Linked DNA regions of Homo sapiens: all the other regions are linked to region 2. The links come from fine-mapping of genetic effects on gene expression. A gene starts in region 2. Each other region holds a variant in brackets. All regions are shown on one strand. Distances are from middle to middle.

Region 1 (10,437 bases), 67 kb before region 2:
AAAGAAAAAAATCCCCCTAAACCCACTGGCACTTTCAAGTTGAGTGGTTTCCCCACGTCTCAGAAGACGCGCCTTCCCGAAGTGCCTTTCTGCCCTTCTCTTCCCGACAACCCTCCCGGGCCCAGTAGCTGTGTGTGCTATTGCGGTGGGACTTTCTGGACGTATGTGGTCCTCGGTGAGCTCTTCCTCCCATGCCCTTTTCTCTATAAGGGGCATGAGACAGGAAACAGGCTCAGAAACATTGCTCTAGAGATCGGGAGTAAAACACCCCCAAAGACCTGAAAGTGGTTGTCCCTGGGGGAGGGGATTTGTCAAGAGGGAGCAAGTCCGGCTGCTTTTTGTCTTAAGCCTTTTAGAGCCAGCCAGCTCTGTAAGCACTACAACAAACAGCTTTGTTAAAGTGATGCCTAATTGTGCCCAGTGATGCACGGCACGATCCCTTGATGAGCAGTTGTTTTGCTCGCTGTCTGCATCCTGTGTGTCCCTACTTTGGAAATTGAGTGACATTTCAGAGACTGGCAGCTCAAGTCATGGGGGGCTCCTGTTTGACAGAGGGCTGTCTGAAGAGCCTTTGTTTAGTAGAATCATGGAGTCAGAGGATGTCTGGTCTGGTTGAGACCCCAAATCATCTAGTCCAAACCCTCATTTTACAGATGAGGGGACAAGGCCCATGAAGAAGTAGTGTCTCTGAGCTCCCCCTGGCTGATAGTGGAGGGGCTGGGATAAGAATTAGGCCTCCTGAGTTACAGCCCAGGGCGGCCTCCACACCGAGGGTCACGTGTGCCTCTGAGTACCAGAAGCATGAACAAAGCGAGAGAAGAGAGTGAAGAGACTCTGTCTCTGCTGCTCTGTCCTGAAATAGTCTGCTCAGAGGGGAAGCAGGAGGAACCCAGGGCACAAAAAATTTCCATGAGCGTGTAAACCTCATGCCCTTAGGCAGGCAGGAGCAGCCAGCACTCAGTTACTGTCATTACCACCCCATTATCATCATCAATACAGGAAGCAGCTACATCAGGAGGAGGCCTGGCCCCTCTAGGCCAGTGATGCTTCAGCTAAAACACAGATGCCTGGGCCTTACCCCCAGAGTTTCTGATTCTGTGGGACTGGGGTGGTGCCTGAGAATGTGCCTTTCTGACAAGTTCTGGGGTGATGCTAATGCTGTGGGTGATGCTGATGCCCTTGGAGAACCACTGCACTGGAGTAGCCCTTGCTACTTAGTGTGGTCCTTGGACCTGCTGGGTGGAAATGCAGACTCTTACGCCCCACCTAGACATGTGGCATCAGAATCTGCACGTTGGCAGTGTCCCCAGGTGTCACACTTTAGTTTGAGAGGTGATGGTATGGTGCAGAGTTCACCTGGCTGCACGTTAGAGTCACCCAGGGAGCTTTTACCCTCCCTTCCATTCCCAAGCCCCAGCCCCCACTAATTAAATCAGACTCTCTGGGAGAGAGACTTAGGCATCAAGAGTCTATAGAGCTCCCAAGGTGGCTCCTGGTTGTGGCCAAGTCCTAGAATCCACAGTGGCAGCTGCAAGGGGCCTTGGAGATGATCAGTTGCAATTTACCAAGATTTGAAAACTAAGGGCATAAGGACCCAAGGTCCCACAGACAGTAAGTGACAAATCCAGGCTGTTGATACCCTGATGACTCTTTCACCAGCTCTTTCAACTCTAAGTCCCCTTTTATATAGTTCCATGGGAACTGCAATATACTAGTGTTCCCAGGGAACCCATTGTAAATCATGGAAGATCTATCTGCTCATTGGAAACCCACCACCTCCCAATCTGTTTCAGCATGGCAGGCTGTCCTGAATGCGGGTTACATATTCTAGGGAGGCAGTGTAGCATGGTGGTTAGGAGCAAACCCTTAAGCTCAGCAGCTTACTAACCAAGACTCCTGGCTCTGTGTCTTGATTCCTCCTCTGTACAACAGGAATAGTAATAATAGTGCCCATCTCATGGATCATCTGAGGTCAGGAGTTCGAGACCAGCCTGGCCAACATGGTGAAACCCCTTCTCTACTAAAAATACAAAAATTAGTTGGGCGTGGTGGTGCATGCCTGTAGTCCCAGCTACTCAGGAGGCTGAGGCAGGAGACTCACTTGAACCCAGGAGGCGGAGGTTGCAGTGAGCCGAGATTACACCACTGCACTCCAGCCTGGGTGACAGAGTGAGACTCTGTCTCAAAAAAATAAAAAATACAAAATAGTGCCTGTCTCATGGGGATGTTGTGATGTTGTGGGGGTTAACTGAGTTAATGCATGACAAGCTGAGATCACTAATTGCAAGCAGCAGGCACTTTGTAAATGTTTTTTATTATTTCATTAACTGGTTGACCTTGAATAAGTCATATGACTTAGAACAATTTGTTTGACTTCTCCATGACTCAGTTTCCTTAACTGTTAACCAGGGGTAAGCATAGTAGTGACCTATTTATAGGGTGGTTGTGAGGAATGGAGGGAATAAAAGGTCTGAAGCCCCAGCACAGCTTCTGGAACACACCTGGTGTCAATCAGTGGTGGCTGCAGTTATGTGTTAGAGACTCAACACCGGTGCAGGAGAAAGTTCTGGCCAGGCCAGAGTCTGAGCTAGGTTGGTCCTGCTCCTCTCACGGGAGCAGCCAGAACCATGAGGATTGAAGTTTCTGGGGATGTTTTTGCCTGGAAAAAAGTTTATAATGTTCTGTGGTTGCCAGCAGCTGGGGGATGGGAAAATAGGGGGTTAACAAGTAAAGAGTTTCCGTTTCGCAAGATGCAAAAGTCCTGGAGATTAGTTGATTGCACAACAATGTAAATATACTTAAAGCTACTGAACTGTACATTTAAAAATGGTTAAGATGGCACATTTTAAAAAATATTTAATTTTTAAAGGGGAGTGTTAGGTTCACAAGGTTCACAAGCAAAATTAAGAGTTAAGAATAGAGATTTTCCAATATACTCCCCACTGCCCACAAACAGGCATTGCCTTCTCCATGATCAACATCCCCCACCAGAGGGGCATATTTACTACAATTGGTGAACCTACGTTGGTGCATCATTGTTACCCAAAGTCCATGGTTCACATTAGGGTTCACTCCTGGTGTTGTACAGCCTTAGGCTCAGATTAATGTATAATGACATGTGTCTGCCACATGTCACTTTCACCGCCTGAGAATCCTCTGTGCTCTGCCTGCTAATCCCTTGCCACTGATAAAATGCTACATTTTTTTTAGCAGTTTTTAAAAGGAGGATTTATTTGACAAGTTTCACTTAGCACAATATACCTAAAAGGAAGTCACACTACAATGAAAGATTTAAATCAAGGCCTCAGAATTTCATACAAACACCAAGGCCAAAATTCTAAAGTATTGGTATTGCGTTTCAGATTTTTCCCATTAACTTAAAAAAAAAAAAAGCTTAAACGTACATGCCTTACAAGTTATTAAGTGAAACTAGAATTAACAAACATGCCAAAATGTTTCTAGACACAGCTCCTACCTTGAGTTTTACAAAAAACAAAGCATGTCTTTCCACATGCATCCAGTGTTCAGTGTAATGTGGCAAAGGGCAACATTTAACATAATTCAACTTCTTTCACCTAAATATGCTTACTAAGTACACCCTATAATATAACTAACTTGAGAAAAGCTGGAACTTGCTCAACAGTTGTAGTTTACTCGGCTTCACTGTTACATCCTAGATGAGTATTGTGTTAAAAAATATTGAGCCTTAAGTCTTCATAACAATCCTGATTTCCACTAGAGAGTAAGCATAAATCACAAGCTTGTATTGCAGAAACTGTAAAGTTGACCAAGAGTCAGTGATTAGGATCGATCAATTACATTTCCCTCCACAACTCACACTGGACGTGTTAGACATCCCTCCCATTCCTCATGCCTATAGATGCATGGCTTCCATGATTCTAGTTGCTGCTATTCATTGCTCCTTGGCTACTTATGCAATGTTTGATTGAAAATCACGGGAGTTTTCCCGTAAAACTTGGTCATATCGCTCGCTAAATTTTTGTTATGTGTATTTTACAATAATTAAAAAGAAAATGTTTATAATGTCCTTTGTCATCATTTATGTGAAGGATTGCCATGCAGAAGAGAGGGCAGCAGGACTGGTGAGTGGTGAAGGGTGGCAGTTATTAATACAGTTCGTTAAAGAACTCTCTAACAATTAAACTCATTCTATGGAAGGAGGAGGGAGCCCTCCCATCACCAGTGTTCAAGGAGAACTCTATGACCTCAGATGGAGACATGGAGAGATTTCAGGCCTCAGATTGGAGGCTGTGTTACTCAGTGTTTCCCAAGTTTGCCTATTGATAAGAATCACCTGGGGATATTGTTAAAAACAAATTTCATGGCACCATCCCAGATTCACTGAAAGGTAGAATATCTGGGGGAGGATGAAAGGACCAGCCTCTTCAGATGATTGTCTCTTTTTTTTTTTTCTTTCTGAGACAGGGTCTCACTCTGTCACCTAGGCTGGAGTGCCATGGCACGATCTCGGCTCACTGCAGCCCTGACTTCCTAGGCTCAAGCAATCCTCCCACCTCAGCCTCCTGAGTAGCTGGGACTACAGGTGTGCACCACCATGACTGGCTAATTTTTTATTTTTCTAGAGACAGGGTCTCACTGTGTTGCCCAGGCTGGTCTCAAACTCCTTGGTTCAAGCAATCCTGCCTCAGTCTCCCAAAGTGCTAGGATTACAGGCATGAGCCACTGTGCCCAGCCTTCAGTTGATTCTAACTCAGAAGTTTGGCAAACGTCGGCCAAAGGACCCCCGGTCTCCTAACCCTGAGATTCCATGAAGAAAGCTTCTCAGTGGGAGTGGGTCACACTGGCCACAGAGTTCCTCCAGTAGCCTTGGGAGCCTTACTTCTTGGCTAGGTCACAAGCCCATGTGCCTACTGGCCTGAGTCCCTGACACCCTCGCCTCTGGGCCCTGTGACTTGGTTGGCAGGGAAGTCCTGCTCCATTTCCCACTCTTGGGCCCTGTCACCAGGCCCACTTCTCAGCAGGGGCTGGCAGGGGTCAAAGTTCTATATTTCTAAGTCACCATGCAAGCTCAATCAGGCGCTCCTGAATTCCAGCTGAGTGTTCTGTCTTCTTGGATTTTGCTCCTTCTGCCCTGGTTCTGCCCACTGATTACTTTTCATCAAGCATTCATTAGAATTAA[C/T]GAGATAAGCTTTAATAAAGGACCCAAGCAATTTGAATAAAAGGCTTCTTTATTAATGCAAAAAACTGTTCTAATTAGAAGTTTGGGGACATGCAGTTTGGTCTTCTTGCAATAATAATTGTAATTAGGAGGATCATCACAGCTTGTGTTTATTGTACTGCTACCGCCTCCCCCAAGGATCTTTCTGTTCCCTGCTGCAGCCCAGGTGTCAGTGGCTGGGGCTGCTAGGGAAAGTCTAGCTGCTGTCTACATGGTGCTGGAGGAGCCTGGCATTGCCCCTTACCTACCATGCCATTCCTGACCCCTGTCGGGGTCTGTGACCGCCATTTAGCACTAAATGATTCCAATGCCAGGAGCCTTCTTCTCTGAGCATTCATGCAGCATGGGCGAGGCTCTGAGAAAGTGTAGAAGAAGGCAGAGCTCAAGGAGGGAGTCCCAGAGGGGTGACAGTCCTTTGCTCATGCTGTGGCTCACTCCTGGGTTCCCTTCCCTCTCTCCTTTTTGTCTGTAGAACTCTCATCCATCCACCTGAATCTAGGGTGACCCTAAACATCCCAATCTGCCAGTGACTGAGGAGGGATTCCCCAGGATGCAAGACTCTCAATGCTAAAATTAGGAAAGTCCTGCTTAAACTGCCCTACTCGTCACCCTACTTGAATCTTTGGTTTTGAATCTTTGCATTCAGATCCCATCACTGTACCACAATGACCATGGACAATTTACCTATCAACATGTGCCTCATTCTCCTGCTGTGAGGGTAACTCAGGTTGTCAAAGGAATTAAATGAGTTACTATAGAAAAAGTGCCTAGAACTGTGTCTGGCACATAGCAAATACTCAGTGCTGTTAGCTGTGTTTATTTTATTTATTTATTTGTTTATTGAGACAGAGTCTTGCTCTGTTGCCCAGGCTGGAGTGCAGTGGCACGATCTCTGCTCACTGCAACCTCTGCCTCCTCGGTTCAAGCAATTCTCCTGCCTCAGCCTCCTGAGTAGCTGGGATTACAGGCACGCACCACCACGACCGACTACTTTTTGTATTTTTATTAGAGACAGGGTTTTAACATGTTGGCCAGGCTGGTCTCGAACTCCTGACCTCAGGTGATCCACCTGCCTCAGCCTCCCAAAATGCTGGGATTACAGGCATGAGCCACCATGCCCAGCCCTGCGCTTATTAACTTGAATGGGACCTTTGAGATCACCAGCTTGGCCTCTGCTGGTTTAGGAATTCTCTCTGTGGAGACTCTGCCTGACCATGCTGCTTGATGCGGTCCTCACGTCCTCACCCAGGAGCCTTTTCTTTATGCCTTGGTGAACTATATACTGTCTGTGCTGAGGACCCATAGAGAATGAGACCTTCTCGATGACATCCCACAGCTCTTTGAGGACCACTCTCTCCTGTCTGCAGCCTGGATCTTCTCTTCCCTGGGTGGGGCCCCCCTTCCCTAGTGGGACCTGGCCCCCAGTCACATCTTGGCTGTGTTCTCTGGCAGCAGTGCCGTCTGTTCCTATAAACTCAGGGCCCAACATTGAACTTGGGGCTCATGGGGCTTTTTCCTTCTGCAAACTGGTAGAATGGGTATAGATGGTGCCCAACCTCTGAATTAGACCTGCAGAGGAATTTCCAGAGAACAGAAGGTGACTGGCTCGTGCAGAAGGCTGTTGGCCCCTTTCCCCAGAGGCATTGAGGGCTCTGAACTTGAAGGGCCTACAGGAGTTTGTAGACAAGACCTCGGTTTCCCATGGGGGAGTTCAGCATATACTCCCTTTCTCTGGCCTGGCCTAGAGCCAGGCACCTAGGCATGTTTTTGACTCAAGGGGGCAGTAGAGTGGAGTGGTTGGGACCCCTGGCTTCCTGATCCACCTAACCTGGATCCAAATCTCCCCGTCCTCACTTCTAGCTATATGACCTGGGGCAAGTCACTTTATTACAGTCTCCTGTGTGCAGAGGGGATAGTTCGTACTTACATAGCACATGTGAAATAGTAAGTGGTGTTGTTTATGGTTGTTATTATTCCCATCCCCCGTGTGTGGCATACAGCATATTGCTCCTTGTGTACAGATGGGAACATGACTGTGTAAGGATGATATTTGCTCCTGGATCTCCATTTTCTTGTCCCGGGACCATGGAGAACTGTTCTGGAGATCATGGACCTCTCCTCCCAGCAGGGGTGAGAGTCCATGTGCTGTGTTAGTGGCTGGTGATGGGGCTGGGATGAGGGGTGTTTGCATCACATCCCAGCAGGGCCCTTCTGTGGAACTCCTGGATTGCCTTTGACGTTGGTGGCAGCCAGGCTGTTCTGGGTAGGAGCTTGGTGGTGCACCCCTCTCATGCATCCTGGCCTCTGGTGGGTACTGGAGGGGTCACATAATGGAGAAAACAGATGGAATCCCTGGGGACACAAAAAAGTCATAGGTAAGTCACAGGATACTGTGCAGATCAGTACCTGGCACACAGGAGGGCCTCGATAGCTATTTGTGGAGAGTGAAAGAAAGAAGCAGGTGTCGGAGGTGACATTCCAGGCCCTCGGCATCCTCTAATGTGGCCTTGCGGTGTGTCAGTTGGCCAGATGAAGCCGCAGAGGGCTTGTATGTTGCTTGTTTTTTGTGTGTGTGTGTTTTTTGGGTTTTTTTTTTTTTTTGAGACGGAGTCTCGCTCTGTTGCCCAGGCTGGAGTATAGTGGTGTGATCTCGGCTCACTGTAACCTCCTCCTCCCAGGCTCAAGCAATTCTCCCACCTCAGCCCCCCAAGTAGCTGGGATTATAGGACGCGCCACCACACCCGGCAGATTTTTGTATTTTTAGTAAAGATGGGGTTTCACCATGTTGGCTAGGCTGGTCTTGAACTCCTGACCTCAAGTGATTTGCCCGCCTCGGCCTCCCAAAGTGCTGGGAATTACACACGTGAGCCACCGTGCCCGGCACTTGTATGTTGCCTAAATCAGAGACTGGAAGGGTGGGTGGTGTGAGGTTGGGATGGTGTGTAGATGGCCCAGGTGGTCGGAATGGGACTGTGGGCTGGACATTTCTGGGCTGATCTACTCCGGAAAGACAGGCTGCTTTGAGTACCCTTGGAAATAACTTGCATGGCTTTATGGCTTCTTCCTCCGTTGTAAGCACTTTCTCTCCCTACTGTGGGGAGTGGTGGTCCCTGAAAGCTCCTATTCACAGCTCTGCCCCAGCCCAATGCAGAGTTCCTGTGTTTCTTGGATCTGCTTTTCCCTATTTCCCTCACTGACGAAGAGCTGGCTGCCCTCAATTTATCTGCGAATTTGCCAGGTTATTTTTTCCAATAAAAGTTAACTTTAGCACTTAGGGAACATGAGGCAGGTGGATCACTTGAGGCCAGGAGTTCAAGACCAGCCTGGGCAGCATGGTGAAACACTGTCTCTACTAAAAATACAAAAATTAGCAGGGCATGGTGGCATGCACCTGTAGTCCCAGCTACTTGGGAGGCTGAGGTGGGAGAATCACTTGAGCTTGGGAGGTGAAGGTAGCAGTGAGCCGAGATCACGCCACTGCCCTCCAGCCTGGGTGGCAGAGCGAGATCCTGTCTCAGAAAAATAGCTAATTTTATGATACATTAATTTTTTATTTTAAAAGTAAAGTATCACTGTATACAGATACTTGGCAAATGGTTTTATATAAATATAGAATGGTATTTTACTTACTTTGTATAAAGTAAACAACCATGAAGACTATAATTTAGTAACAAATTGCTCAAATCCTTTGAAATAACCACTGTTAGCATTCTGGTTATTTTTCTTTCTATTGTCTTTCCCAGGCATGTATCCTTTTATACCTAGTTGGAATTACAATGTGCATATGGTTTTTATGTCCTGCTTCAGAAAAAAACCCTACGCTCTGTAACATGAATGATTCAACAAGAGAAACAATCAACACACCTGGGTTGATAATACTATTTAAAGAGCTCTACAAACATTTGGGAGAAAAAAATGCCAGAGCTCCAAGTAGAAAAATAGTGAGACATGGATAGGATTTTCCATAGGGGAAACAAATGGTTAATTAATATTTACTTTATTTTATTAGAGATAGGGTCTTGCTCTGTTGCCCAGCTTGAGTGCAGTGATGCAATCATAGCTTACTGCAGCCTTGAACTGGACCCAAGTGATCCTCCCACCTCATCCTCCCGAGTACCTGGAACTACACACAGGCACCACCACGTCAAGCAAATTTATTTTATTTATTTATTTTTTTGAGACAGAGTCTCTCTGTCATTCTGTCGCCTAGGCTGGAGTGCAGTGATACAATCTTGGCCTCCCGGGTTCAGGCAGTTCTCCTGCCTCAGCCTCCTGAGTAGCTGGGATTACAAGCGCCCGTCACCACACCTGGCTAAATTTTGTATTTTTAGTAGAGATAGGGTTTCATCATGTTGGCCAGGCTGGTCTCAAACTCAAGTGATCTCCCTGCCTCGGCCCCTCAAAATGATGGGATTACAGTGTGAGCCACCATATCCAGCCGTATTTTATTTTTTGTAGAGACGGGTCTTGCTGTGTTGCCCAGGTTGGTTGTGAACTGGCCTCAAGTGATCCTCCAACCTTGGGGATTACAGGTGTGAGCCACCATGCCTAGCTGAAAAACAGTTAATTAACCATGAAAGACAGTCAGTCTCATTATTGAAAATATTGCAAATTAAAGCAGGATACCATTTCCCTTGATCAACTTAGCAAGGCTTTCTTTTCTTTTTAATGATTCTATTATTTGTTGGATAGGTTACATGTAAATTGGCATAAATATTCTGGAAAGCAATTTGGAAACACATCAGGAGCTATATATTTGTTTACTAATTATGTTTTTTCCTTTGTAAATATCTTACGTCCTTTCCTTCTCAGGTGGTCTTAATTTTTTCTTTATTCAATTATATTGAGTAGTTTCAGTAATAAAGATGACTCTGTATGCATCCTATTTACAGATCCCTGTTGTTTGCTTTACTCTTTTTAAGCTTCTAAGTGTTTTATATTTTTTTAATGCAGTTAGTTTTGTTGATCTGTTCCTTTGTGATTCTGTTATGCTCCTAGATTTGGGAAGTCATCCTCACTTAAGAGGTTGTATAAATGTTCAATTAAGTTTACTTTTTTTAATTTGGTTTAAAAATATTTAACGTGTAATTCTATCTAGGATGTATTTTGATTCTTAGATTGAGTCTTTCTCAGAATTGTTAAGGGGTTATTCTGACATCAGTTGATTAATCCTTCCCTCTCCAGTTTATTTGTGAAGCTTCCTTTAGCATTTATTATGACATTATTTCTGGACTATA
Region 2 (10,437 bases):
TGTGCATGTGCAGTTCACAACAGGATTTGCGCTCCCAGGAGAATCTAATGCTGCTGCTGATCTGACAGGAGGTGGAGCTCAGGCGGTAATGCTCACTCACCTCCTCCTGTGCGGCCCAGGTCCTAACAGGCTGTGACTCAGGGGTTGGGGCTTCAACAACAAAAATTTGGACACTCCTGGCTTAAACAACAAAAATTCATTTTCTCACAGTTCTGGAGGTTAGAGTCGAAGATCAAGGTGCTGAAAGGCTTGGTTTCTCCTGAGGCCTCTGTCCTTGGCTTGCAGAGGACCACCTGCTCGCTGTGGCCTCATATGGCCTTTCCTCTATGCATGTAGATTCCTGGTGTCTCCTTCTCTTCTTCTTTCTTTTTTTTCCCTTGAGACAGGGTCTTGCTCTGTCACCCAGGCTGGAGTATAGTGGTGTGATGTCAGCTCACTGCAGCCTCTGAGCCCCCTGAGCTCAAGTGATCCTTCCACCTCAGCCTCCTGAATAGCTGGAACTACAGGCACACAACACCACGCCTGGCTATATACATATATTTTTTTCATATGTTTTATAGAGACAGGGTTTTGCCACGTTGCCCAGGCTAGTCTTGAACTCCTGGGCTCAAGTGATCCACCCGCTTTAGCCTCCCAAAGTGCTGAGATTACAGGTGTCAGCCACCACACCCAGTCTCTTTCTCTTCTTATACAGACACCCACCTTATGTCGTTAGGGCCTCACTTTTATGACCTGATTTAACCATAATTACTTACTTCCTATCTCCAAATACCGTCACATTGTGGGGTTAGGAATTTGACATATCAATTTTGGGGAGACATAGTTCAGTCCACAACAGGAGGAGAAAGAGAGGGGGCACTTTTCTTTATCTGCATGGAGCAACTTTTACCCAATCTGTCTGTTCGGCCTCCACCCATGACTTTGGGGATGAGGAAGGGCACTGTATTTAATGCTGTTTTAATCCACACAGCAGCCGTTAGAAAAAGTAGTATAAATCCCATTTTACAAATGAGGAAAATGAGGTTAGAGGGTGTGTTAATCCATTTTCACATTGCTATGAAGAAATACTGGAGACTGTGTAATTTATAAAGAAAAAGAGGCTTAATGGACTCACAGTTCCACATGGCTGGGGAGGCCTCACAATCATGGCAGAGGGTGAAGGAGGAGCAAAGTCACCTATTACATGGCGGCAGGCAACAGAGCATGTGCAGGGGAACTGCCCTTTATAAAACCATCAGATCTTGTGAGACTTATTCACTATCACAAGAACAGCACAGGAAAAACCCACCCCGATGATTCAGTTACCTTCCACCCGGTCCTTCCCACAACACATGGCAATTATGGGAGCTACAATTCAAGGTAAGATTTGGATGGGGACGTAGCCAAACCATATCAGAGGGCTTAAGTGACTTACCCTGGGTCACACAGCTAACAAATAGTAGAGATAGAATTCACACTCAGACACACTGCCCTGCCTGCTCTCCAAGGCTAGATCCACGAAATTTGTTTTGTCTGGTACCACGTGGACTTGACACTATAGGAAGGTTTTAATGGTAGAAGAAAAATGTCTGTAGAAGAGGAGGGAAAAGGAAGAAAAGGCTCTATGATCTGGAACTATTCAAATAAAAAAGATGGTGGAGCAATTGACCACAAGGCGCTAGAATGATGTGGCTGCTGAGGAAAGAAGGAAGGAAAGGGAAGAAAGCGAAAAAGTGAGACTGCATTATTCAAAGTCTAGTGCCCCGGCTGGGCATGGTGGCTCAAGCCTGTAATCCCAGCACTTTGGGAGGCCATGGCAGGTGGATCACATGAGGTCAGGAGTTCAAGACCAGCCTGGCCAACATGGTGAAACCCCGTCTCTACTAAAAATACGAAAAAATTCGCTGGTTGCGGTGGTGGATGCCTGTAATCCCAGCTCCTAGGGAGGCTGAGGCAGGAGAATCACTTGAACCTGGGAGGCAGAGGTTGCAGTGAGCTGAGATTGTGCCACTACACTCCAGCCTGGGTGACAGAGTAAGACCTTATCAAAAAAAAAAAAAAAAAAAAAAAACTCTATTGCCCCTGTAATTGTAGCTCATATTTATTGAGTACCTACATGTTGTCAGGGCTTTACATATATTAACTCATTTAATTCTCATAACCCTACATGGTAGGTACTATTATCCCTATTTTGTAGATGAGAGGAAACTCAGGCACAAAGACATATAAATTTCCCAAAGCGCACCAACTCTAAATGGCAGTGCTGGGCTATACAGACTTTACAGCACAGTGCCTCAAACTCTGCATTGCTCAAGGGGGCTTAATATGACCTGACATACTTCTGGGTTTTATCAGAGGGACTTCAAGAAATGTGAGCACTTCTACAGGGAGGTGGACTCAAGATAGTGATAAGATGAATAATATTTCTTGCGTACTGTCTATATGCAAAGCACTGTTTCACATGCTTTGTATATAGTAACTGCTTTAATCTTCACAACTATAGGAGATAGGTGCCATTATTATGCCCATTTTACAGATGAAGAGACTGAGGCAAGTCACAGAAAGAAAAAAGCCCAGTGAAATTCTTGTGTTTCTCCAGTAGAACAGCAGCGTTGAAGGAGCAACTTCCCTCCCACTTGACCTCTGAAGGGCTGCCCTAGGGGAAGAGAGAGGGACATGATGGCAGAGGTACCCATTGCTGGGGATACTTCTTGCTGGGGATTAGGGTCAGGATGCCCGCTCTGGGTCAGGGTTAGACTCAGTGACCCCTAAGGACCTTCTAGCTGTGAGACTCTGCCCACTGCTCTGGACAGAGGAGGAACTAGGGAAAGAAGTGAGACTAGGAAGAATCTTGATGCCAACTGTTTCCCCAGTGTCCAGTGAGCAAACTCCTGACTCCTAAAAGAGGAAGGAATAGACCATTCACTTTCTTTCATCTGCCTAGAACATGGGATCTTTTTTTAAAAAAATAGTTGGGTACATAGTAGGTGTATATATTTATGGGGTACATGAGGTGTTTTGATACAGGCATGTAATGTGAAATAAGCACATCATGGAGAATGGGGTATCCATCCCTTCAGGCACTAATCCTTTGAGTTACAAACAATCCAATTATACTTTTTAAGCTATTTAAAAATATACAATTAAGTTATTATGGACTATAGTCACCCTATTGTGCTGTCAAACAATAGGTCTTATTCATTCTTTCTAGCTATTTTTTTGTACCCATTAACCATCCCTATCCTCCCACTACCCTTCCCTGCTTCTGGTAACCACATGCTTCTACTATGTCCATGAGTTCAACTGTTTTGATTTTTAGATCTCACAAATAAGTAAGAACATGTGACGTTTGCTTCCTGTGCCTGGCTTATTTCATTTAATATAATGATTTCCAGTTCCATCCATGTTGTTGCAAATGACTGGATCTCATTCTTTTTTATGGCTGAATAGTACTCCATTTACATATATGTACCATATTTTCTTTATCCGTTCATCTGTTGATGGACACTTAGGTTGCTTCCAAATCTTAGCTATTGTAAACAGTGCTGCAAGAAAAACACAGGAGTGCAGATAGAACCTGGGATCTTTATTCATGTGGCGAAAATTTATGGTGGTGCCTGCTGGGTGCCTGACAGGGGCTGGAGATGAGTATTCTCCAATTCAGCTCAAGGAACCATTTGTTGAGCATCTACTATGGGCTGGGCTGAAACTTTGGTATCACATTTACTCCCCTCAAAATCATTTTACAAATGCAGAAACACACTCAGGCACAGGTATTATTATAAGAAACTTTTCCAAGGGTACCACCCGGTGAATGCCTGAACTGGTTAATTTCAAAGCCGTGGTCACCTAGCAGAACTTGTCCCCATTCTCCTGGGAGAGCCGGGAGCTGGTGGGGCTCCCCCCTGCCTCCCTCCCGAAGCCCTCCTGTTTTCACAGCTACCTCTCATCCCCTTCTCAGGAAGGCCCAGAGTGCTGGACCCCAGGCTAGGGTGGGCAAGGATGAGGAGTGGGGACAGAGGCTGGCATATGAGGCACGGGAGAGAGGTGGGGAATTACGGGACGCCGCTGCCAGGGCTGCAGTGGGAGGAGGGGTGTGTCCCCTACTTCGGAGGGGCGCTCGGGCTCTGTGGAGAGAGCGCCATGCGGGAGGCGGGCCCGGGGCGCCCTCGCTCGGCGGGCACAGGTGCGCGGGTGCCATGACGACTGCGCCTCACGAGCCCCCTCCTTCCCCTGGTCGGGAGGCGAGGGGCGGCGGGCGGCTGAGCCCTGCGGGCAGCAGCGCTGCGCGGGAGCCAGTCAGCCCGAGGGGAGGGAAACCGGCCAGGGCCCGGGGCCTGGGAGCGCACGCCCCCTGCTCACCTCTGCCCGGACCGACCGGACCTGCGGAGCGCGGAGGCAGGGGCGCAGCCCGCAACCAAGTGCCCGGAGACCGTCCCTCTGCCCGCTGGCCCGAAGGGGCCCGCTGCCTCCCGCCATCGGAGACCGCCGGAGCCCGCAACTGGGGGCATCATGGAGGGTGAGTGGTCCTGGGGCTGGGGGCCAGCCGTGGGGCAGGGTACCGACTCCGGGGCATGGGGCGAAGGGAGAGGAGAGGGCCGGGCAGCTGATCACCCATGGCTGTCCAGAGCCAGACGTTGTGACACTCTGTGTGTGACAGAGACAGAGACACTGAGTGAGGGAGAGAGACCTGGGGTGCCCATGTGTTCATGGTGTGTGTGTGTGTGCGTGTGTATGTGAGACAGAAAAACAGACAGACAGAAAGAGACAGATGGAGAGAAAGACCTGGGGGTGCTCTGTATTCATGTTGTGCCTGTGTGTGTGAAAGAGAGAGAGAGAGAGAGACAGAGACAGAGACATAGAGACAGACACTGAGAGAGGGAGACAGAGACAGGCAGAGAAACACTTGGGGGTGCCTCTGTATTCATGTTGTGCTTGTGTGTGTGTGTGAGAGAGAGAGAGAGAGTGAGAGAGAGAGAGAAAGACCTGGGGTGCCTCTGTATTTGTGTTGTACATATGTGTGTGCATGTACAAGACACACACACACACACACACAAAAAGAGAGAGTCCCTGTTGTGTGTGTGCACGCACACAATCCCTGCTGTCTGAGCAGAGAATCATTTGAGACCAGGTGAGGACAGCTTGGCTATTAGCTTCAGAAGAATTGTCACCGACTTTGTCTGCTTGAAGGGGTGGGGTTGTTGGGGAGATGGGATTCTAGAGGTGATATCCTCCATGTAGAGAGAATTTCTCTCCCTAAGGAAAGGAGAGTGAACTATGGACCTTACCTTCAGGATTTTAAGGGATAGCGGACCAAGGCATAAGGCTGCTTGCTCCCACTTTACCAGAACCCTCTCTCAGCCATTGTGGACAAGGGGAACCATATTTAGGCTAAGAAACTGGAAAACCAAGGGCTCGTCCACTGTCTTGCTGGGTGTCTTTGAGATAGTGCCTAAACCTTTCTGTGCCACTGGTCACCCATCTATCGAATGGGGGAACTTAACATTCAGCTGGCTTCAGAGAGTGTCTGTGAGGATAAAATAAGATATGTTGTACAACACGCCAGTATGAGGCAGCTGTGGCAAGAGGTAATAAAACCCCAAAATTCCAATTAGTAATTGCAAACACTGCTGTTAAAAAATAAAATCAAGTTTTATAGAAAATCTTGTGAGGCTGCACTTGTAGTTTTCCAATGAGCCAGGGTATGAAAAGCACACACACAAAAGAGGCAAGAAGGAATCAATAACCCAAGAGGAATCTGGAAGATTGGCAGATCTGTAAGAATGGCGTTAGCAAAGCCCTGAAGCTCCAGTGAACAGAAGTCGGGGGAAATTGGCAAAGACAAGAGCAAAAAGCTTTCAAAGTCTAAGAATAACAAGAAGGAATCTGCTCTGGCTTAGGCTCGAGGGCAGGCAGAGCAAGATACAGGCAATTTTACTTCAAATTGTGGAATAAAGAGGATAAGGAGGAAATAGAGACCCAAGATAGTCAAGCGATAGGAAGAAGACATCAAGTTACCTACAATGAGCTCACTCATTGAAGCCCAGACATATGACATCCCAGCGACCCAGAGGTATTTACAGATATAATCATTGCTTTTGAGGAAACTACAGAGAATGAAGGAAGTGCCAGAAAACTGAAGATGGGCAAATGTCCTGATTTTCAAAAAAGGGAAATATAAATTTTTTATCTAAAAAGCCTCTACACTGCTAAGATTAGTTTTGACCTCTATTAAAATTCCAGAAGAAATGACCAAACACAGTGTACACTTAGGAGACAACAACGCACTCCCTCAGCTCAGAATTTTTTCAAATTCTGAGCTGCACACTTGCAAAGATGTGTGCCTGAGCATGTTCATCACAGTGCAAAATTGGAAACCATCCAGATAGCCATAAATTATGTAAATTAAATAAAAAATGAGACACTTCTGCAATGGCATACTATGCAGACATTAAAAACTGTGCTTAGGATTTTCTTTATTGACATGGAAATATGTTCACTACCCACTGTGAGTAATTAGAAAAAAAAACAGGTTTTTGAATGCATGTGTAGTGTGATCCCCTTTATGCAAAATTACATAGGTTTATTATTGGAAATATACATATACAAGTGTATACGCAAAGAGGTAGTCACTAACATCTTTGTTTGATTCTCCTGCTTCTGAAAGCAGACCCTAAGACAAGAGCTTGGATATAGGGAGTCTATTTGGGAGATGATGCCGGGCAGTGGAAGTGAGGGAATGAGGAGAGTGAGATGAAGAAGGGAGAAAAGGCAAGAAATGGGTGCCTTAATGAGCTGGTTTTAGCTGTGGGCAACTGGGGGGTTCTATCCTGCTGGGGACACTCTGAGAAAAGTGCAGGGTGAACCCGAGGTTTACCCCACCTAAGAGGTGGCGTTGGCTGCTTCACCTCCCCACTGGTCTGGTATTGCCCCACTCCTGCAGTTTTGGGTTGTCCCTTTTTGTGACTTCAGAGGAAGCAGAGCAGAGAGACTCCCAGGTGCAGACCTGGTGGGGTGCTAAAAATTTGAGGAACCATTCACCCCAGCTGAAATCTTTGGGCCAATGGGATGTGGCAGGCAGAGAGCATCACAAACATAGGGGTTATCTCTGGATGTGAGGGTTCTGTCAGGTTTACTCTCTCTTTTGCGGTGCTCAGAATTCTTTGTTGTTGTTGTTGTTGTTGTTTGAGACGGAGTCTCGCCCTGTTGCCCAGGCTGGAGTGCAGTGGCGTGTTCTCGGCTCACTGCCACCTCTGTCTCCCAGGTTCAAGCAATTTTGTTGCCTCAACCTCCTGAGTAGCTGGGATTACAGGCATGTGCCATCATGCCTGGCTAATTTTTGTGTTTTTAGTAGAGACAGGGTTTCACCATGTTGGCCAGGCTGGTCTTGAACTCCTGACCTCGTGATCTGCCCGCCTCGGCCCTTCAAAGTGCTGGGATTACAGGTGTGAGCCACTACGCCCAGCCTAGAATTCTTTTATAATAAGCACAACAAAACAAAAAAGCGTTTTCAAAAAGAAAGAAAATAATGTATTGTTCATTAGGAGCCTATATTAGTACTCACTAAGAACAAATCCAGGAGCTCAAACAACTCAACAGCAAGAAAACAAAAAACCCAATTAAAACATGGTAAGAAATCTGAATAGACATTTCTCGAAAGAAGACATACAAATGGCTAACAGGTATATGAAAAAATGCCCAATATCACTGATGATTAGGAAAATGCAAGTTAAAACCGCAATGAGACATCATCTCATACCTGTCAGGATGGCTTTTACCAAAAAGACGAAAGATAAGTAAGTGTTGTTGGAGATGTGGAGAAAAGAGAACCCTTGTGTGGTGTTGGTGGGAATGTAATAAATTTGCACAGTCATTATGGAGAATAGTATGGAGGTTCCTCAAAAAGCTAAAAACGGAATTACCATATGATCCAGCAAGTTCATTTCTGGGTACTTACCCCAAAATCTGAAATGAGTTACTTGAAGAGATGTTTGCACCACCGTGTTTATTGCAGCGCTATCCACAATAGCCAGGCTATGGAATCAACTAAGTGTATATAAACCGATGAATGGATGAGGAACATGGGGTATGTAAACACAATGGAATACTATTCAGCCTTTAAAAAGACAGAATTGTGTCATTTAAAACATCATGGACAATATTGGAGAACATTATACTACGTAAAATAAGTCAAGCACAGAAAGACAAATACCACATGTTCTCACTTATATATTGAATCTAAAACTATAGAACTCATAGAACCAGAGAGTAGAGTGGCTCTGTGGTGGGGGAGAATGGAGTGATGGTGGTCAAAGAGTACAAAATTTCAGTTAGACAGAAGAAATGGTTTTCTTTTTTTGAATTCTATTGCACAGCATGGTGCATAGAGTTAATAATAGAGTATTGTACATTTCAAAATTGCCAAGAGGGCCATGTGCAGTGGCTCATGCCTGTAATCAGAGCACTTTGGGAGGCCAAAGCGGGAAGATCATTTGAGGTCATGAGTTCGAGACCAGCCTGGCCAACATGGTGAAACCCCATCTCTATTAAAAAATACAAAAATTAGCTGAGTGTGGTGGCACACACTTGTAATCCCAGCTACTCGGGAAGCTGAGGCAAGAGAATTGCTTAAGCCCAGGGGGTGGAGGTTGCAGTGAGCTGAGATTGTGCCACTGCACTCTGGCCTGGGCGACAGAGCAAGACTCCATCTTAAAAATAAATAAATAAATAAATAAAGATTGAGTTTGGGTGCAGTGGCTCACGCCTCTAATTCCAGCACTTTGGGAGGCTGAGGCAGGCGGATCACCTGAGGTCAGGAGTTTGGGACCAGCCTAGCCAACATGGTGAACCCCCATTCCTACTGAAAATACAAAAATTAGCCGGGTGTGGTGGTACACATCTGTAATCCCAGCTACTTGGGAGGCTGAAACATAAGAATCGTTTGAACCTGGGAGGCGGAGGTTGCAGTGAGCCAAGATCTCTGCACTCCAGCATGGGTGACAGAGCGAGACTCGGTCACACATACAAAAAAAGATTGAATCTTACTTAAAAAAAGCAAAAACAAAAACTAAATTTCAGATGTTTTCACCACAAAAAATGTTAAGTATTTGATGGATATGTTAACTGGCTTGATTTAATTACTCCACCTTGTATTCATAAATTATACCATCGCTTTTTATCCCAAAAATTTATATAATTATAAATTGTCAATTTGCAATAAAAAACTTAAAACTTATTTTAAATCTAAAAAAATATAAAAATCATGTCAATACCATTTGGAGCAACTGTTCATAAGACACAACTGGCTGGTAAATGTTTTTGTAACTCTATCCAGCTGTTAATTTTACATAGCTATTCACAGTGTGCACGTTTTACTAAATAATATTTCCAAAACAAACAAAAGAACAAATCAAGCTAAACCTACAGATTTCCTCTTCCAGAATGGGTTTCTGAGAGGAAAAATGATGAATACGAAAGTTCATCAGGACACTGCCAAGATCTCTCAGAAAAAACTCGTGAATTGATTGAGAGACGTAGGAGGGATACTGGAGGACCAACAATGGGGGCTTTATGAAAGGTTTGATAGCAGCCTAGGGGTCCCTAGAACTCCAACCCTGATATGACATTAATTAATAATTTAGGGGGAAAATAAAAGGCATGCTTATGAAATCTGTGGCTAGGAGCTGTAACACCCACAAGGCAATAAAGTCAAGATTTAAGGTTATCTCAACATACCAAAATGCTGGATTAAAACCAAGAAAATGAAAGGTACATGTAAGTGAAATGTAAAGTCCTGAATTTAGGTCTCAAAAAATTAATGGCTTACATTCAAGATGGGGGAGATCTGGCTTTTATTCTTCAGGAAAGTTACGGGGCAGGGTGGGGGGTGGGTAGGGGAGGTCCCAAAACACACTGACTATGAGATAGGTCTGGAGTCCCTCTTGCTGGATACCCTGGGACGTGGGGAGAGGGGGATGATTCTGGGGACAGGGGCTCACTCTTGTTCTGGCTCCTGGGAGCAGAATTGGGACTGGTGAGGGAAGGTTGCAGTAAGACAACTCAACTCAACCTCAGGAAGAACTTTCTATCACTCAGGGCTGGCCCAGCATCTGTCTCCTCACCAGTTCCCATATCCAGCTTGAGCAAGTGGAGGCTGACAGGTCTCATGACTGACTAGGGGACAGAAAAGATAATTATTGGGTGGCTGGATTAAAACAATGGCCTGGAGGGTTCTCTGAGGGCCCAGAAGTCTTCCCCAACATCTAGAGACAGACACTGCAGTCTGCCAAGCCCCCTGCAGAGTTGCTATGGTTAGCCGGGCAGTAACCCTCATTTGCCTTCCCCTCTGGGCCTTAACTGTGATGTTATGCTGTGGGACAAGTCAGCAGAAGGGCAGCAAATCAGATCTGCTCCCCAGCCTAACCCCAGCCCCACCCCAGCCCAACCCCAGCCTTTCTG
Region 3 (10,437 bases), 81 kb before region 2:
AGTGTGTATGTATGGTTTTTTTTTTTTTTTTTTTTTTTTTTTTGAGACAGCGTCTTACTCTGTCACCCAGGCGCTGGAGTGCAGTGACACCATCTCGGCTCACGGCAATCTCTGCCTCCCAGGTTCAAGTATTTTATCTGATGTTTTTAAGTGTTTTGTTGTACAAGGGTATTCAACTTCCCTCCTCTCCTGCTTTGCTTTTGCAGTAGTTTTCCTCTGTTTTATAGCTGCTGGAGCTAGGCTGAGTGTAGGTGACCTGCTGGTGACACAGCTGTTTGGAGTGGGAGCAGAGTTCATAGGTCAGCCTAGGGCACAGCCCTGCTTTTCCCCATCCACCCTGCTGCCTGCCCCGAGGGATGGGGGTGGGGATGAGGAGGAGGGCTGAGAGAACTAAGCGAGGCCAATGATGTGAACCTCCCTCTTCCCGCCTTCTCCCACCCACACACCTGCCTCTCCTCCCAGGTCTTCTTGGAACCACAGTGAGCCCACCCTGTTCCTTGAAAAGGAGGAAAAAAAGCAGAGGTGAACATCTACCTTTGTATTTAAGATTTACATCATTGTTAGGCTGTCTTGAGTTAAAGAAACAATGGGGACAGCCCCCATGGACTGCTTTCATGGGCAAATGTCCCTCTGTCAGTTCCTTCACTCCTGCAGGATTTTCTGAAGGGTAGGTCCTGGGTAACCAACATCAGGATTGTAGGAGTACTGGTTAAAAATGCAGATTCAGGCCGGGCACGGTAGCTCACACCTGTAATCCTAGAACTTTGGGACGCTGAGGCGGGCAGATTGCCTGAGGCCAGGAGTTCGAGACCAGCCTGGGCAACACGGTGAAACCCCATCTCTACTAAAATACAAAAACTTAGCTAGGCGTGGTGGCATGCACCTGTAGTCCCAGCTACTCAGGAGGCTGAGGCAGGAGAATTGCTTGAATCTGGGAGGCGGAGGTTGCACAGTGAGCTGAGATCATGCCACTGCACTCCAGCCTAGGTGACAGAGCAAGACTCAGTCCCCCCTGCCGCCAAAAATAAATAAAAATAAAACCTCAGTTCATTTCAGAAAAAAAATGCAGATTCAGGCTGGGCGCGGTGGCTGATGCCTGTAATCCTTGTGGTGGGTAGATCACTTGAGGTCAGGAGTTCAACACCAGCCTGGCCAACATGGTGAAAACTGTCTCTACTAAAAATGCAAAAATGGCCGGGCGCGGTGGCTCACCCCTGTAATCCCAGCACTTTAGGAGGCCGAGGCAGGCGGATCACGAGGTCAGGAGATCAAGACCATCCTGGCTAACACAGTGAAACCCCATCTGTACTAAAAATACAAAAAATTAGCCGGGCGTGGTGGTGGGCGCCTGTAGTCCCAGCTACTTGGGAGGCTGAGGCAGGAGAATCATTTGAACCCGGGAGGCGCATCTTGCAGTAAGCTGAGATTGTGCCACTGCACTTCAGCCTGGGCGACAGAGTGAGACTCCGTTTCAAAAAAAAAAAAAAAAAAGCAAAAATTAGCCAGGCATGGTGATGCATGCCTGTAGTCTCAGCTACTTGAGAGGCTGAAGCTGGAGAATCTCTTCAACCTGGGAGGTGGAGGTTGCAGTGAGCCAAGATTGTGCTACTGCACTCCAGCCTGGGTGACAGAGCGAGACTCCATCTCAAAAAATAACATAACATAACATAACATAACATAACATAACATAGGCAGATTTATGGGCAATACTCCAGAGCTGTGAAAATAGAATCTGTGAGGGCGGGGGCTGGTAGTGTGGATTTTAGCAGGCCTCCCAGATGATTCTGCCATGCCTTGATCTTATGTATTTTATTGTTATAATTTATATATATAAAATTTACCCTTTTTAGTATATAGTTGAGTTCTGACAAACATATGTTTTTATAACCAACCACAACAAGACTCAGAACCTTTTTATCACCTCATGCTCCCCTGCAGCCAAACCCTCCCCATCCCTGGTACCTGGGAGTCACTGATCTCTTTTCCATCGCTGTGGTTTTGCCTTTTCTAGGATATCATGGAAATGGAATGATAGAGTAAATAAGCTCTTGAGCCTGGCTTCTTTCACTTTAGCATCACGTGTTTGCGATTCATCCATGTTTGGTGGGAATCAGTAGTTTGTTCCTTTCACTGCTGAACAGCTTTACATGGTGTGGGTGTTCCATGATCCGTTTATCCTTTCATCTGCTGAAGGACATTTGGACTGTTTCATTTTTTAACATCACGAACAAAGCCTGTAAACATTTGCATACAGGTTTTGCTGTGAAGCAAAGTTTTCTTTTTCTTTTTCTTTTTCTTTTCTTTCTTTTTTTTTTTTTTTGAGACCGGGTCTCACTCTTTTGCCCAGGCTAGAGTGCAGTGCAGTGGTATGATCTTGGCTCACTGCAGCCTCCGCCCCCTGGGCTCAAGCGTCCTCCCACCTCAGCCTCCTGACTAGCTAGGACTACATGTGTGCACCACTGTACCTGGCTAATTTTTGTATTTTTTGTAGAGATGGGGTCTCCCTGTGTTGGCGAGGCTGGTCTCAAACTCCTGGGCTCAAGCATTCCTCCTGCCTCAGCCTCCCAAAGTGCTGGGGTTATGGGCACAAACCACGGCATCTGGTCAGTAAAGTTTTCATTTCTCTCAGATAAATACATAGGAGTAGGATTGCTGGGTTGTACAGTTGTCCCTCCATATCTGAGGGGATTGGTTCCGGGAGCCCCACAGATACCAATATTCAAGGATACTCAAGTCCTTTGTATAAAGTGCTATAGTATTTGCATCTAACCTACACACATCCTTTTGTATACTTTAAATCATTTCTAGATTACTTATAGTACATAATACAATGTAAATGCTATGTAAATAGTTGTATTGCTTTTTAAAATTTGTATTATTTATTTATTTTCAAATATTTTCTGTGTTTGGTTGAATTTGTGGGTACAAAACCCACAGGTATAGAGAGCCAACTCTATATATTAAGTATATGTTTGACTATAAAAAACTACCACACTCTTTTCCAAAGAGATTGAGAGCTCCAATTGCTTCACATCCTTTTCAACACTCGGTATGTTTTTTACTTGTATACATTCTCTAGGGTGTAATGTATCTCATTGTAGTTTGATTTATTTTTTCTTTTTTTATAGTATTAAGAGGTGTATCATTGTAGTTTTAATTTACAGTTCTCTGATGATGAGTGATATTGAACATCTTTTATTTTTATTTTATTTTATTTTTTTTTTGAGACAGAGTTTCACTTCTTGTCACCCAGGCTGGAGTACAGTGGCACAATCTCAGCTCACTGAAACCTCCGCCTCCCAGGTTCAAGTGATTCTCCTGCCTCAGCCTCCCGAGCAGCTGGGATTACAGGCGCCTGCCACCATGCCTGGTTAATTTTTATATTTTTAGTAGAGACGGGGTTTCACTATGTTGGCCAGGCTGGTCTTGAACTCCTGACCTCAGGTGATCTGCCTGCCTCAGCCTCCCAAAGTGCTGGGACTACAGGCATGAGCCACGTTCCTGGCCGACGTTGTACAACTTTTCATGTGCTTGTTGGCTATCCATTCGTTTTTTGTTGTTGTTTTTTTTTTTTTTTTTGAGCTGGAGTCTTGCTCTGTCACCCAGGCTGGAGTGCAGTGGCACAATCTCGGCTCACTGCAGGCTCTACCTCCCGGTGTTCACGCCATTCTCCTGCCTCAGCCTCCTGAGTAGCTGGGACTACACGCGCCTGCCACCTCGCCCAGCTAATTTTTTGTATTTTTAGTAGAGAGGGGTTTCACCGTGTTAGCCAGGATGGTCTCGATCTCCTGACCTCGTGATCCGCCCGCCTCGGCCTCCCAAAATGCTGGGATTACAGGCGTGAGCCACCACACCCGGCCTATCCATTCGTTTTTGATTAAATCTCTATTCGAATCTTTTGCCCATTAAAAAACATTGGGTTTTCTTTCTTTTTAGTTTTGTTTTTTCGAGGTGGGGTCTTGGTATGTTGCCCAGGCTGGAGTGCAGTGCTGTTCACAGGCACAATCATTGCACACTGTAGCCTGGAACTCCTGGGCTCAAGAGATCCTCCTATTTCAGCTTCCAGAGTAGCTGGAACTACAAGTGCATGCCACCTGCCTGGCTCACATTTTTAATTTTGATGAAATTTAATTTATCGTTTTATCTTTTATACATGATACTTTTGGTATTGTATGTGAGAAGTCTTTGCCTAACCCAAGGTCAAGAAGATTTTCTCCTATCAGGATCATTTGGTTATTGGTTAAGCATGCAGATCCACGGACCCTATTCTAGAGCTTTAAAAGTTGAATCTCGCCGGGCGCGGTGGCTCGCGCCTGTAATCCCAGAACTTTGGGAGGCCGAGGTGGGTGGATCACGAGGTCAGGAGTCCGAGACCAGCCTGACCAACATGGTGAAACCCCGTCTCTGCTAAAAATACAAAAATTAGCTGGGCTTGGTGGCACACGCCTGTAATCCCAGCTACTCGGGAGGCGGAGGCAGGAGAATCTCTTGAACCTGGGAGGCGGAGGTTGCAGTGAGCTGAGATGGTGCCACTGCACTCCAGCCTGGGCGGCAGAGCAAGACTTCATCTCAAAAAAAAAAAAAAAAAAAAAAAAGTTGAATCTCAGAGAGGACCTGGTGATCTGAATTTTAACATGAACTGTGTCTGATTCTTCTTTGCCTTGAATTTTGAGAATCACTGGCTTACTGTTTGCAATTTGGAGCTTCCTGTCCTGATGGCTGCTGCGGGGTGGGGCAGGGGCATTGCCTGGCAGGGTTCTGGATGTGCATGTGGGAGATGATGAATAAATACGGACATGGATGTGATGTGCTCCTGGGGAGGGACCTGAGCAGCTAGGCTGGGAGCTGTGGAATCAAACAGGGAGACCAAGGCTAGCGCGAGGGGTGTGTCCACCTTTCGTCCCTCCCGGGCCCACCTGCGCTTTGGCTGAGCGCTTGCTTCTTTCTGTACTAGC[C/T]AGCAGATGGCGCCCTGTCACAGGCCAAGCCAAGGACCGGAAGCCGAGCCCAGGGACCTGGCCAGGCTGTTGCTGGGTGAGCTGTTGCTGGGTGTTCTGACCAAGGCTTCCACTCCCTTCTTGTGTTTATGTTCCTGTCCAACCCCTGCAGGGACCTGATGTTGCAACCCCTTTTCTGAACAAGAGTACTCAGGAAACACTTAATAGATACCCACTGAATCACAACATTTTCTTCGTTCAGAAATTGCCACTGGCTCCTCTTTCAAAAAACACACTTTGAGCAGCTGCTGTGTGTGCCCTGCCTGGAGGGCAATGCATGTGCCCGGGAGTGCCCAGTCTGGAGGGGAGGCAGACATCGCTCTAGCACACTCTTACACTGAAAGGGGGCTGCCAGGGACTGGAGTGGGAGCTGCTTTTCTGGCCTGGTGGGGTGGTGATCTTGGCCCTCACCAGGGCTTGTTGGCCTGTAGTTCCTGGCCCAGAGCTGAGGCCGGCATCTGGTAGGGGTGAGGGGAGTGTGTTTTGCTGTGATGTTTCCTGGCCTGGCGAGTCCTGAGGGTCAGCCTGGCACAGTCCAGCTCTGAGAGCATGGGGGAGGGACTGCGTTCTCACACAGCAGCTCCCAGATGGCTGGGGCTGCCTGGCTTTGTTTGCCACAAGGGCTGAGGCCTCAGATCTGCCATCCTTGGCTCTCTGCCTCTCGCAGGAAGCAGGTGGGAGTTTACCAGGGAGGAGAGGGGGCTGGAGGTCCCCACTGCAGGGTCTGTGCTGCTCTCCCAGGGGGACTGAGCTCCTCTGTAAGGAGACAGACCTTTCCCAACTCTGCCTCCTCTGTGGTGTGCTGTGTTGGGGGTTGACTTGGAGCCTTCTGCCTAGCATGCCACCTCTAGACTTGCTCTGTCTGGATTGGGGCTCCTGGGAGGCTAAGAAAGACCCTTCTCCCTCTTCTCCTGTGCCCCCTGGGGAGGGCTTTCTTCCCTTGAGGGCTCTGCACCTATTTGAAAGGAAGGCTTTGTATCCCTGGGTGGGCACTTCTCTGTCTTGACACCTTTGGTTTTTGAGCTGGATAATTCTTTGTTCTGGGGAGCTGTCCTGTGCTTGGTAAGATGTTTAGCAACATCCTAGCCTCTACCCACTTGAGGCAAGATGCCTTAGTTCATTCAGGCTTCCATAGCAAAATATGAACAGCAGAGATTTATTTCTCACAATTCTGGAGGCTGGGAAGTCCAAGATCAAGGCACTGGCAGGCTCAGTGTTTGGTGCAGGTCTGCTTCCTGGTTCATTAACAGATGTTTCTCACCATGTCCTCCGTGGGTGGGGGGCCAGGGAGAGACTTTTCTGGGGTTTCTTCCTTCCTCCCTTCCTCTCTCTTTTTCCTTCCTTCCTTCCTTGAGAGAATGTTCTGGGGTTTCTTCTCCCCTCCCCTCCCCTTCCCTCCCCTCCACCCTTCCCTCCCTTTGCCCAGGCTGGAGTGCAGTGGCTCAAACTCTTAGGCTAAAATGATCCTCCTGACTCAGCCTCTCGAGTAGCTGGGACTACAGGCACACATCACCATGCCTGGCTAATTTAAAATTTTTTTTTTTTTTAATAGAGATAAGTCTCACCATCTTGCCCAGACTAGTCTCGAACTCCTGGGCTCAAGTGATCCTCCCATCTCAGCCTCCCGAAATCTTGAGATTATAGGTGTTACAGGTTTGAACCACTGCACTGGCCTGGGGGTCTCTTTCATAAGGACACTAATCCTGTCCATGGGGGCTCCACCCTCACGACCTAATCACCTCCCAAAGGCCCCACCTCAAATGCCATCACATTAGAGATTAGATTTTAACCTATGAATTTTGGGGTGACACATACATTCAGTTGATAACACTAGTAGCACCCCCTGCCCTCACTCCACCCCCAGTTGTAACAGCCAAATTTGTCTCCAGACATTTCCAAATGTCCCCTGGGGGCAAAACTGCCCCCCTTGAGGCACGCTGCTCTGGGAGGTCATGTCTGTAAGGGGCCAAGCCTGGCACTGGGTGGAGTCAGCTCTGTCAGGACAGGGCTCACGCCAAGTGAAGCTGGGTGAGGTGAAAAGATGAGAGTTCTGTTTTACAGGAGGCTGTGGTCCAGAAATGAGGAAGCTGGGGTTCTGGTCCTCACTCTAACTCCCCATTGCAGGGCCCAGTTCTCATCTGTCAAATGTGGGACTCCAGCGCTGACCTTTAGCAGTTCTGTCTGTATTAAACCCTCATCGGCTTCTTCTACACAATGAGTAAAACCCAAGATCATACCACAAAGCTGTGGATGACCTGACACTTGCAAAATTCTCTGACTGCACTTTGAGTAGCTTGGGGCTTCCCTCATCTTTACAGCCCAGACTATCAGTCCTTTGAACTATTAAGCCTTTCTAGCCACAGGCCTTTGCACATACTGTTCCCTTTGCCTGGGATGCTCTTCCCTGTTCTTCACGTGTCTGGGCCCTTCTTATACTTTAAGGCCCAGCCTAAATGCTTCTTTTTTTCTGAGACAGAGTCTTGGCTCTGTCACCCAGGCTAGAGTGCAGTGGCACGATCTCAGCTCACTGCAACCTCCGCCTCCTGGGTTCAAGTGATTCTCGTGCTTCAGTCTCCTGAGTAGCTGGGATTACAGGCGTGTATCACTATTGGCTAAATTTTTGTATTTTTAGTAGAGACGGGGTTTCACCATGTTGGCCAGGCTGGTCTCGAACTCCTGGTCTCATGTGATCCACCTGCCTTGGCCTCCCAAAGTGTTGGGATTACAGGTGTGAGCCACCATGCCCGGCCTGAATTTAAGATCTTTTTAACTGGCATCTGCCTCAATCTCAGTTGACTGTTTTTGGCTAAGGTGCTTATTTTTGTCGTGCTCCAGTTCATCCTCGAGATTCCTGGTTTTGTCACATTCACTCCGGCAGATGTGTATTTACTGTGTCCTGTGTCTGTGTACCGTTCTGCAGAGGATGGGATGGGAGGGTGAGGGTGGGGGAGGGAGCCAATGACTGGGCCCCGGCAGGTGTGCCTTCAAGTTGTGCACTTGCTGTGATTTCCACCTTGATCGTCCTTTCCCCAAATCTTTGTATGCCCTGCTCTTTTTTTATTCTTTTTTATTTGTTTGCTTCTCTTAACACTGTACCTCTCAGATCTTATCCTTTTTATTCTTGTCTCAGCTAAATGTCACTTCCTCCTAGAAGCCCTTCCTGATCACCCTAGTGAGGGTTGCCCCTGCCCCTGCCTCAGTTACCTGCTCTCCCATTATACCGTTTTGTTTTCTTGAGGGCAGTTATCACTGCTTGCCATTCCCTCATATACTGCCTTCTCGCCACACTAGGGCGTAAGCTCCCTGAGGGCAGAGACTCACTCTCTCTTGCTCACCATCATATCCTCGGACAGTGCTGGCATATAGTGGATACTCAGGAAATATTTGTCTGATGAGTGAGTGCATCTGATTTTCCCAGCTCTGGAGAGGTGATATTTCATGTCACTTATCAAAGGAGAAACTGAGGCCTCATGAGCTGCAGTGGTTTGTGTGGACGCTCACAGCCAGCAAATCTTAAAATCTTGTGCTGAGATTTGAACTTGAATCTGTTGGCCTCCTGTGCCTTCATTCTCTCTTTCTCTCTCTCTCTCTTTTTTTTTTTTTTTTAGAGATGGGGTCTCACTCTGTCTTCCAGTCGGGTGCAGTGGCATGATCATAGCTCACTGCAGCCTCAACCGTCTAGGCTCAAGTGGTCCTCCCACCTCAGCTTCCTGAGAGTAGCTGCGACTATAGGCGTGTGCCATTATGACAGTTCCCATACCCTCTTTAACATGCCACCCATTTCAGTGGGACCTAATTTCTGCCCTCTGGGAGCTCTCTGCCCTGCTAGGAAGAGTGAGACAAACACGTTGACAACTTTCATGTGAGACACAACGGGATAGGGACCCTGACAGAGCTGGCAGAAATGCAGTGGGCCCAGTGTGGTGGCTCACACCTGTAATCCTCGCACTTTGAGAGGCCAGGGCGGGAGGATCACTTGAACCCCGGAGTTCAAGACCAGCCTAGGCCATATAGTGAGACCACTGTCTCTACAAAAAAACTAAAAGAAAAATTAACCGGGCAGGGTGGCGTGAGCCTGTAGTCCCAGCTACTCAGGAAACTGAAGCAGGAGGATCACTTGAGCCTGAGAGGTCTAGGTTGCAGTAAGCTATGATCATGCCACTGCACTCCAGCCTTGGCTATAGAGTGAGACCCTGTCTCAAAAGAAAAGAAATGAAGAGCAAGAGAAGGAGGAAGAAGAGGAGGAGGGGGAGGAGGAGGAGGGAGATGGGGAGGAGGAGGAGGAGGAGGAAAGCAATGAGGAACCAGGTGTGGTGACTCACACCTGTAATCCCAATGCTTTGGGAGGCAGACTGGGATCACTTGAGGCCAGGTATTTGAGACCAGCATGGGCAAGATAGCAATACCCCATCTCTAGTAAAAACAAAAATAAAAGAAATGCGGATGGGCGCAGTGGCTTACGCCTGTAATCCCAGCACTTTGGGAGGCTGAGGCGGGTGGATCATGAGGTCAGGAGTTCAAGACCAGCCTGGCCAAGATGGTGAAACCCCGTCTCTACTAAAAATACAAAAATTAGCCGGGTGTGGTGGTGGGCACCTGTAATCCCAGCTACTCGGGAGGCTGAGGCAGGGAATTGTTTGAACCTGGGAGGCAGAGGTTGCAGTGAGCCGAGATCACGCCACTGCACTCCAGCCTGGGCAACAGAGGGAGACTCCACCTCAAAAAAAAAAAAAAAGAAAAAGAAAAAAAATGCAGTGGAACAACGGGGGTTCAAGGGCAGGAGCAATTACATTAGTTGAGGACATGAACAGAGGCTTAGTGGAGAGGAGGCATTTAAACAAGTCCTTGAAATACAGTGTTGACGAGAACTTTTGAAGCTAAGGGAGAACATTCTACTTAATGGGAACAGTACCAGCAAAAATGTAGAGGTGGAAAAATAAAGGGAGTTGCAGGGAATAATAAGCAGCCTGGCTTGGCCAGAGGGCAAGAGCTTTGATGAAGAGGTGCAAGAGGGATATCTAGAAAGGGAGGTGGGAGCTGGATCCTTCTGTGTGGATGCTAGGCTTTGGACAGTGGGGTCAGCACCTCCAAACTAGCATGGAGAGTATAATTTTGAGACAAGGTCTCACTCTGTTACCCAGGCTGAGGTGTGGTGGCATGATCTTGGCTCACTGCAGCCTCAAACTCCTGGGCTCAAGTGAGACTCCCAAGTAGCTGGGCCCACAGGTGCATGCCACCACACCCAGTTAACTTTATTTTTTATACAGACGGAGTCTCACTATGTTGTCCAGGCTGGCCTTGAACTCCTGGGCTAAAATGATCCTCCCATCTCTGCCTCCCAAAGTGCTGGGATTGCAGGCATGAGCGACTGTGCCTGGCCTGGCATGGAGATTCTTGAATGGGAGAGTGATGTAATGGAAAGTGGTGTTCAGGTGTTCGAATG

Direction of the effects. Positions count from the first base shown, and alleles are read on the strand shown. Sizes are in standard deviations (SD) of each study's normalised expression. Not every link is listed here.
As copies of T replace C in region 1, the expression in anterior cingulate cortex of the gene that starts at base 4,164 in region 2 goes up (large effect, 1.2 SD a copy in GTEx).

The links.
Region 1: its variant is fine-mapped to the expression of NPFFR1 in anterior cingulate cortex (GTEx, PIP above 0.99).
Region 3: its variant is fine-mapped to the expression of NPFFR1 in cerebellar hemisphere (GTEx, PIP above 0.99).

The regions. Positions count from the first base shown.
Region 1 is chr10:70,345,183-70,355,619 of GRCh38, reverse strand. The region is part of intron 2 of LRRC20 (leucine rich repeat containing 20); the gene reads left to right. Among named protein-coding and RNA genes, the nearest start is that of LRRC20, 32 kb to the left of the region's middle. RefSeq lists an enhancer at 175-274. The variant C/T (reference allele first, on the strand shown) is at 5,162.
Region 2 is chr10:70,277,731-70,288,167 of GRCh38, reverse strand. It overlaps NPFFR1 (neuropeptide FF receptor 1), which reads left to right and starts at 4,164. Exons shown (of 4, transcript NM_022146.5): 1 at 4,164-4,498. The coding sequence starts at 4,492. RefSeq lists an enhancer at 4,456-4,957.
Region 3 is chr10:70,359,212-70,369,648 of GRCh38, reverse strand. All of the region lies in intron 2 of LRRC20 (leucine rich repeat containing 20), which reads left to right. Among named protein-coding and RNA genes, the nearest start is that of LRRC20, 18 kb to the left of the region's middle. RefSeq lists an enhancer at 248-749. The variant C/T (reference allele first, on the strand shown) is at 4,956.